Homo sapiens: one gene and its partner. The protein of the gene in region 1 interacts with the protein of each later gene in a biochemical or structural test. Each region holds a gene or a part of one and is shown in the gene's direction. Other genes may lie near its edges.

Evidence for each region.
Region 2: the proteins of MSX1 (region 1) and PAX3 form a complex in vitro, tested with the Homo sapiens proteins (one study listed by BioGRID).

Annotation. Positions count from the first base shown.
Region 1 is NC_000004.12:4,857,281-4,861,185, forward strand, and holds the start of MSX1 (homeobox protein MSX-1), read left to right. Parts: upstream 1-2,384; 5' UTR 2,385-2,619; coding exon 2,620-3,088; intron 3,089-3,905. UniProt on the Homo sapiens protein: Acts as a transcriptional repressor. Capable of transcription autoinactivation.
Region 2 is NC_000002.12:222,297,099-222,301,003, reverse strand, and holds the start of PAX3 (paired box protein Pax-3), read left to right. Parts: upstream 1-2,005; 5' UTR 2,006-2,388; coding exon 2,389-2,473; intron 2,474-2,630; exon of another isoform or gene 2,631-2,857; intron 2,858-3,790; coding exon 3,791-3,905. UniProt on the Homo sapiens protein: Transcription factor that may regulate cell proliferation, migration and apoptosis. Involved in neural development and myogenesis. Transcriptional activator of MITF, acting synergistically with SOX10.

The DNA of each region.
Region 1 (3,905 bases):
TAGGTGTGCATTTTTCTAGGGAAGAAGTTCTTGGCTGTATCAGATTCTTAAAGAGACCTGGGAGCAAAACATTTGCAGAAGGAGGGCGAGGGCGGAACTAAGCAAAGACTCGAAAAGGCACACTGCTCGCTTTTTAAATGGCCCCAAAAGCAGATAGGCCTCTGTTTCCTCTCCCCCTTTAACCTGGCCACAAAGGGAGATTCTGGCTGGGTGCGGAGGGGGTTGTTCTGACGAGAGTTTGATTAGAACGGGAGCAATAGAAGTTCGCCGTCCTGGAATCGCTTGAACCTGGGAGGCGGAGGTTGGAGTGAACTGAGATCGCGCCATTGCACTCCAGCCTGGGCGACAAGAGCAAAACTCCGTCTCAAAGAAGAGGAAGAGGAAGAAGAAGGAGGAGGAGGAGGAGGAGATGAGGAGGAGAGGAGGAAGAGGAGGATGAGGAGGAGGAGAAAAGAGGAAGAAAAAGAGGAAGAGGAAGAAGAAGAAGAAGAGGAAGAAGAGGAAGATGCTGTTGTTCGCTGTCCTGGCTGGGCTACCAGCAAGGTATTTGCCCTACAGCCTTGCTCAGCCTCAGCGAGCTGAGCTTCAAAATTGGGTCTTAAGGTCTTCTATCCTTGTACCCTCTCGGGCAAACCTCCGGAGGCCCCGGTGCACCGCGCGTCCAGCCGGCCCAACTCGAGCTAGAAGCCCCAACCACTGCCCAGTGCCTGAGTTGCAGTCTTGGGTCCTTTAGAAACCTGGAGATGTGCGTAAAATTCAGATGCCGGTATTCCCGAACTTCCCCAGGCCTCAGCATATCTCGGCGGCCTGTGGACAGATGGGAGGCTACCAATCGCTCCGGCGTCCGCAGCCCGACCCCTGCCGCCAGACCCCGGACGTCTTCCGGATAATAAAGTTCCCGCTCTAATTCATTTTCCCTAATCTGGACGCCCCTAATCTACAGCTTTTATTGCGCCCAGTTAAAAGTCGAGGGAATTCGCTGTCCCTCCGCGCTCGGATAATTACCCCTAAATGGCCACGGCAGCCCCTTGTGTTTCCTGGAGATTAGAACCCCGCAGTCATCAATGGCAGGGCCGAGTGAGCCGCCAATCACCTCCGCTCACTCCCTGAGAGCCGCTGGCCTGGGCCGCAGGAGGAGAGGCCATAAAGCGACAGGCGCAGAAAATGGCCAAGCCCCGACCCCGCTTCAGGCAGATCTTGCATCTCCCCTGACCCCAACTCATTTTTTCTGTCTTTATTATTATTATTATTATTAACAGCAAACATTAAATCACGTTTTCTCCGAAATTGGCAAAAGAAGAGTTCTCAAGTCCCACACTAGAGTCCACCTCCAGGAACTTTCCTCTTTTCCCAGCCCCCTCCCCCAAATGTGCCTCTCCCCTCCAGGATCAGCGGCCCAGAGATAGGGACATGTCATTGTTTCCGAGGACGCGTTGTTTGAGGTCACCTTAAGGCCAGATCGGTGTTTCATTGACGATTCTGTTGGTTTTATTTCAGTAAGTTCTATATCAAAAGGATCTGGCAGCTCCTTTCCCCGCCCGGGCGCTATAGGTGTTGTGACCCTTGGGACAGAAGTTCAGAGCGAGGGTGGGGGGGGGGGAATACACATCGTGTATGAAAACCGACTGCAGATTCTAGATAATCTTACGTATTCTCACATCCTTGGCACTACAGGAAGCTAGCTTCTTCCCGCAAGGTTTACTCCAGCTCTAAGTTAGAGACAAAGGCCCACTTTTACCTCGAGGTAAAGTTTACAAGATTTCAGAACAGGAAGAAAATGAAGGTTTGGTTTTGTTTCGTTTCTTGAAAAGAAGTTAATAGTATGTCTTTCTCCTAGGATAAATAGCCATGCGTATTTTAAAAACTATATATAAAAGGAATGTGTAAGAAATAACCTCAACTCAAATTATTGTGGTAGAAGAAGAGGGGGGGTCAGACAGTGGAGGGGGGCACAGGGAAACCCAGCCACAGACTAAAGAGAAAGGTAAAAGAAGCAGTAGAGGAGAGAAACAAGGACGGGGAAAAAAAGAGGAGCGGAAAAGAGGGCTGAGGAGGGGAGGGGAGGGGAGGAGAGGAGGGCAGAAGAGAAGGAACGAGAACAAGGGAAAATCCCCCGGGAACACAGAAAGATAGAGACCCAGGGGACTCCCGCAGAGAGGGCCTCTTGGGCTTCAGCGCAGAGGAAAGTTTCCCGGGCACCCCCTCTCCTCCCCTGCCCTCCGCCGCCTGGGCCCTGCCCTGCGTGCCCCCAGGCCCAGCGCGCCTCCGGGCGAGTCCCCAGGAGCGCGGCCCAATGGATCGCTCCGGGCCCGCCCCCTCGCGCGCTGATTGGCCGCCGCCCCGCTGGCCTCGCCTTATTAGCAAGTTCTCTGGGGAGCCGCGGTAGGGCCCGGAGCCGGCGAGTGCTCCCGGGAACTCTGCCTGCGCGGCGGCAGCGACCGGAGGCCAGGCCCAGCACGCCGGAGCTGGCCTGCTGGGGAGGGGCGGGAGGCGCGCGCGGGAGGGTCCGCCCGGCCAGGGCCCCGGGCGCTCGCAGAGGCCGGCCGCGCTCCCAGCCCGCCCGGAGCCCATGCCCGGCGGCTGGCCAGTGCTGCGGCAGAAGGGGGGGCCCGGCTCTGCATGGCCCCGGCTGCTGACATGACTTCTTTGCCACTCGGTGTCAAAGTGGAGGACTCCGCCTTCGGCAAGCCGGCGGGGGGAGGCGCGGGCCAGGCCCCCAGCGCCGCCGCGGCCACGGCAGCCGCCATGGGCGCGGACGAGGAGGGGGCCAAGCCCAAAGTGTCCCCTTCGCTCCTGCCCTTCAGCGTGGAGGCGCTCATGGCCGACCACAGGAAGCCGGGGGCCAAGGAGAGCGCCCTGGCGCCCTCCGAGGGCGTGCAGGCGGCGGGTGGCTCGGCGCAGCCACTGGGCGTCCCGCCGGGGTCGCTGGGAGCCCCGGACGCGCCCTCTTCGCCGCGGCCGCTCGGCCATTTCTCGGTGGGGGGACTCCTCAAGCTGCCAGAAGATGCGCTCGTCAAAGCCGAGAGCCCCGAGAAGCCCGAGAGGACCCCGTGGATGCAGAGCCCCCGCTTCTCCCCGCCGCCGGCCAGTGAGTAGCCAGAACCCAGGCGCAGAGGGAGGGGGCCGGGTGGGGGCCGGGTGGGGTGTGGGACCCGAGGGCTCCTGGTGGCCTCCGGCGCCTGCGTACCTGCAGCCGGTGCTAGGGAGCCGTGGGCTGCAAGGCCGGGTCTTGCGCCTCCCTCCACTCCCACCCAGGAAGAAGGTTCCAGACCTCCTCGCCTTGGCCCAGAGACGCTGCGGGTGGGAGTTAACGGATAGGACACCGATGTCTGGGCACCCTGTCCTCCTGCCCCCACCAAACGACCTCAGGGGTCCATGATCCCTCATCTGATCCCAAACTCTGTTTCATCGGCTTCACCCCAGCGGATGAATGTGTGTGGTGCGGTATCTTCCCTGCACCCGGAGTTTCACTTTCTCGCAGTAGGAGCTGGTGTCCCCCAGCCCCTCTTCCCTTTCAAGTACCTCTTTGCCTAGAGGTTCCGAAGCTCCTACAGAATTCTACCTCCCCATGCCCTTTGAGTTTGAGGCAGATAGTTGGTGCTTTGGGCGGATGGATGATTCAGGGGTGGGGACATTCAGGTTCCAGTGGAGGGGGCGGGGCACCAAGTCAATTAGGGGAAGGCGCCCCCGCTAATCCTATGGGAAGCTCCCAAACGTCTAGGACTGAGCCATTAAAGTGGACTCCAGGTGCCCAAGGCGGTTCGCTCCAAGGCCTCACGGCCCCCTGGCTGCTCTACTCAGAGAACACGCTCGGAGATATTTCAGGAGCACGGGAAATTCCCAAGTTTTCCTCGTTTCCTCCGATTATTTTGCTCGGCATAATAGCAGCCAGATTTCAATGGCGT
Region 2 (3,905 bases), on another chromosome or scaffold:
TCAAAAACAAATGAGACTCAGCTCTAGATGTTCTTTAACTGCTCGCGGGGTCCAAGAGTTTATTTTAGCTGAGAGTTGAGCCTACTTTTGCCTTCTTGAAATTACACTTCTGGTACCTCCTTCACACAGCAATTACCGCTGACCCCAGAAAGTGCTCTGTCGACTCTGCTTAACCTTTGGGAAGAAGAAAACTTGGAAAAAGTCTAGCTCTCAAAATGCTATCGCTGAGAAGTGGCTTAAAACGTACGGACACAGGCTTTGGTGGCCCCAACGCCTTAAAAAGAAAATGAGAAAATTTTCCCCTTGAAAAATTGAATCATTTAATGTAAAACCAGGTTAAACAAGGCACATGCCTCCTTCATGGGTCCAGACATTTCTGGGAGTCTCCTGAGACCTGTCTCCGTGGCTCTGAGGGTCAACCAAGCCTTCTGGCATCAGGCAGGCTGAAAGCTTGCCTGGTTTCCCCAATGGTGAGTGGGTTTTTAAAGGGCCAACTTGTGGACTGCTGAGCGGCTATACCCCACACCCCCCTACATCTTGCCTTCTGAGTTTGCCTTAATTAGGGAATGGGGAAGTAGGGTTGGGGGCCCGAGTTCACGTCAAAACTGTCAAAGGAGGTGGGGGAGGGGGACAGAGAGAGAGGAGTGGAGAACTCCCTCCAGGGGCAGGAAAAATTCAAAAATCATAAAAGGAAAAGGGGGAACTTGAAGCCCAGAAGTCATTGTTTCCTTTATTTCAAAGGGAAAAACCTGCCCGATTCTCATCCTTTTGATTGATTAAGGCCCTGAATACCTCGCGGCCCCGGAGTGACAGTCCCTGAATAGGCTCGAGCGAATAAAGCGCAGTGCAGAGCGCGGGGCTGGCACTCGGGGGTGTAAAGGAGGCGAGTTCGCTGGCACTTACCAAGTTATAAATAAAAGGCTATGCACAATGGTACCTTCTCTAAGGACAGACAGTCTTTACAACACTCCTGGCGTCATATCCTGCTGGGGACACTTCAGCTCCTAGCCAAGACTTCGTTCCTTTTATTTTTCCAGCAGTTTAGTCTGAATGCCATAATAAATTCCTGAGAACAAACGCTGAACCCGGGCAAAACTTTAACATACAGACACATCTCTGTCGACGCATCGGGGATCTATATGTAGAGATTTAGAACCGCAGCTTGCCAGAGCGGTTTTTACACCAAGAAGAGGAGCCAGGTTTTTTTCTGCACCCTCCCCCATACCCCCAGCCTTCAACTAACGAGTGCTTGGGCCTAGCGACGGCTGCCTGTGCTTCACATTAGCCCCGCTTGCGGACGGAGAAGACAAAAGAACATCAGCGCACCCTGGACTCCTCCCAGGAGGAGCCCCATCGGGAGGACCCCTTAACAAGCCTAGGCCAAGGGGCACTGACCACAGGAAGGAAAGCTAAATATGTCTGGGGCCCCAGATGCCTTCTTATTGGAATTGTGCCCCCTCCAGTGGCAGTAAGCCAAGAGAAATGAGAGCGAGACCTACAGGTAGAAAAAATGAGACATAGAGAGAGACACAGGAAATCACAAGAGGAATAGAGGCTGAGCGAGACACACACACAGAGGCACAGAAAGAGACAGAGAGGGAAATAGAAAGTCAAGGAAAGAGTGATCAGAGAAAGACACACACACACACACACACACACACACACACACACACACACACACACACAGAGTGACACAGACAGAGAGACAGAGACAGAGAGACAGGAACTTCTCCGCCCTCAGCAACTGCCATCTCCCTGGGGCTGTCTCTCTCAGTTTCCACCGGGCCAACCTTCTCTCCTGGGCAAGGGGCGCAGCGCGGGTCCCCCTCGGGGCCAGCAGAGGCCTCGGCACCACCAGAGATGGGAAGAGAAAGTGGTCGCTGTTGCCCAATCAGCGCGTGTCTCCGCCACCCGGGACGGTCTACCCGTCGGCCAATCGCAGCTCAGGGCTCCTGACCAAGCTTTGGGTAAAAGAACTAATAAATGCTCCCGAGCCCGGATCCCCGCACTCGGTGTCACCACAGGAGGAGACTCAGGCAGGCCGCGCTCCAGCCTCACCAGGCTCCCCGGCTCGCCGTGGCTCTCTGAGCCCCCTTTTCAGGGACCCCAGTCGCTGGAACATTTGCCCAGACTCGTACCAAACTTTTCCGCCCTGGGCTCGGGATCCTGGACTCCGGGGCCTCCCCGTCCTCCCCTTTCCCGGGTTCCAGCTCCGGCCTCTGGACTAGGAACCGACAGCCCCCCTCCCCGCGTCCCTCCCTCTCTCTCCAGCCGTTTTGGGGAGGGGCTCTCCACGCTCCGGATAGTTCCCGAGGGTCATCCGCGCCGCACTCGCCTTTCCGTTTCGCCTTCACCTGGATATAATTTCCGAGCGAAGCTGCCCCCAGGATGACCACGCTGGCCGGCGCTGTGCCCAGGATGATGCGGCCGGGCCCGGGGCAGAACTACCCGCGTAGCGGGTTCCCGCTGGAAGGTAAGGGAGGGCCTCAGCGCGCCGCCTGGATCCCAGGGCCTGGGACCGGCTGCCTCACCCCATCCCCAGGCTCCGCAGGCTCCTTTGGTGCTTCCAGGAAGCCCATTCCCTGGGCACCCCACACCCCAAGAAGCACCAGTCGGGGGCGAGGACCTACTCGATTTCCTTTCTGCAAATGGAGCGCGCTGCTCTCTGCAAATCCTGGCGGAGCTGGGCGGTCAGGCCTGCGGCGAGCCGGGGAGACTTGTCCCTGTTGTTTTGGAAATGCCGCGGTGGAGAAGGAGGTGAACCGGCTTCTGAGCGGCAGAAGCAACTTCTCCGCAATTTGTCCATTCGAAATTGTCTCGAAGTTGTCTCGAAATTGTCCCGGCTGCGCCCACACTTGTGAAACATATGTTAGTTCAGGAAGTATTTTTTTTTTTTTGCCCTGCAAAGTTGTGGTGGCTAACGCCGCGCCATTGTGATTGGAATTTTTAGAATAATTAAATAAATTAGAATTCTATGTATCTCAAATAGCATCTAGAAGTTTCTATAACTTGTTTAGGAATCGCCTTTCCGTCCACTTGAAGATTCTGGGAATCCCGGGGAGGCAGGAAGTCTTGCAAGCCTGAGCCGTTTTCAATGGTTTTCCAGGTTAGGGCGCCCCAGCAGAGATGCTCATCGCCCCCGCCACCCACTCCCTTCACACCCAGCCTAGAGTAGAATGTAACACCCAGAGCAAGAATGGGGGCTGGGGGCCCAGGAACAGCCCTGCCGCTGCTGTGGTCTCTGTCCCAAGATGTAACAGGTGACACAGGCACTGCTGCTTGGGCCTCCTTTCTGGACCCTCTTTGACCCTTGGCTGCTGCACTTTTGGCTAGAAACCCCAAGGGCTATCAGCTGGCCCAAGTCCCTTAGAAAGGGAGAGATCCCAATTGGACAGGGATCGGTGGGAGCAGAGTTCATCAAGGCCAGCTCCTGGGTGAACTTCTCTTCGCCAGGAGGCTGTTTCTAGAGCAAGCTAGACTCTCTACCAGCTGCAGGGTCTCCTAAGTTGCCACTCCCCGGGCCCGAAGGGGAAGACGCTTTCTCTGGGGAGAATTATTTTGCCCCATTTGCTGTCTTTACACAAGATTACATGCGCTATATTGCTGAATAATTTGAACAAATGTGATTGAAAGGAGGTCTGGGTCTGGGAGTCCGATGTCGAGCAGTTTCAGCGTCGGTGCTGTAACATGAGGATAGGACAGAAGACTGCGAAATTACGTGCTGCTGTTCTTTGCTTTTTATTTTCCTCCAGTGACTTTTCCCTTGCTTCTCTTTTTCACCTTCCCACAGTGTCCACTCCCCTCGGCCAGGGCCGCGTCAACCAGCTCGGCGGTGTTTTTATCAACGGCAGGCCGCTGCCCAACCACATCCGCCACAAGATCGTGGAGATGGCCCACCACGGCAT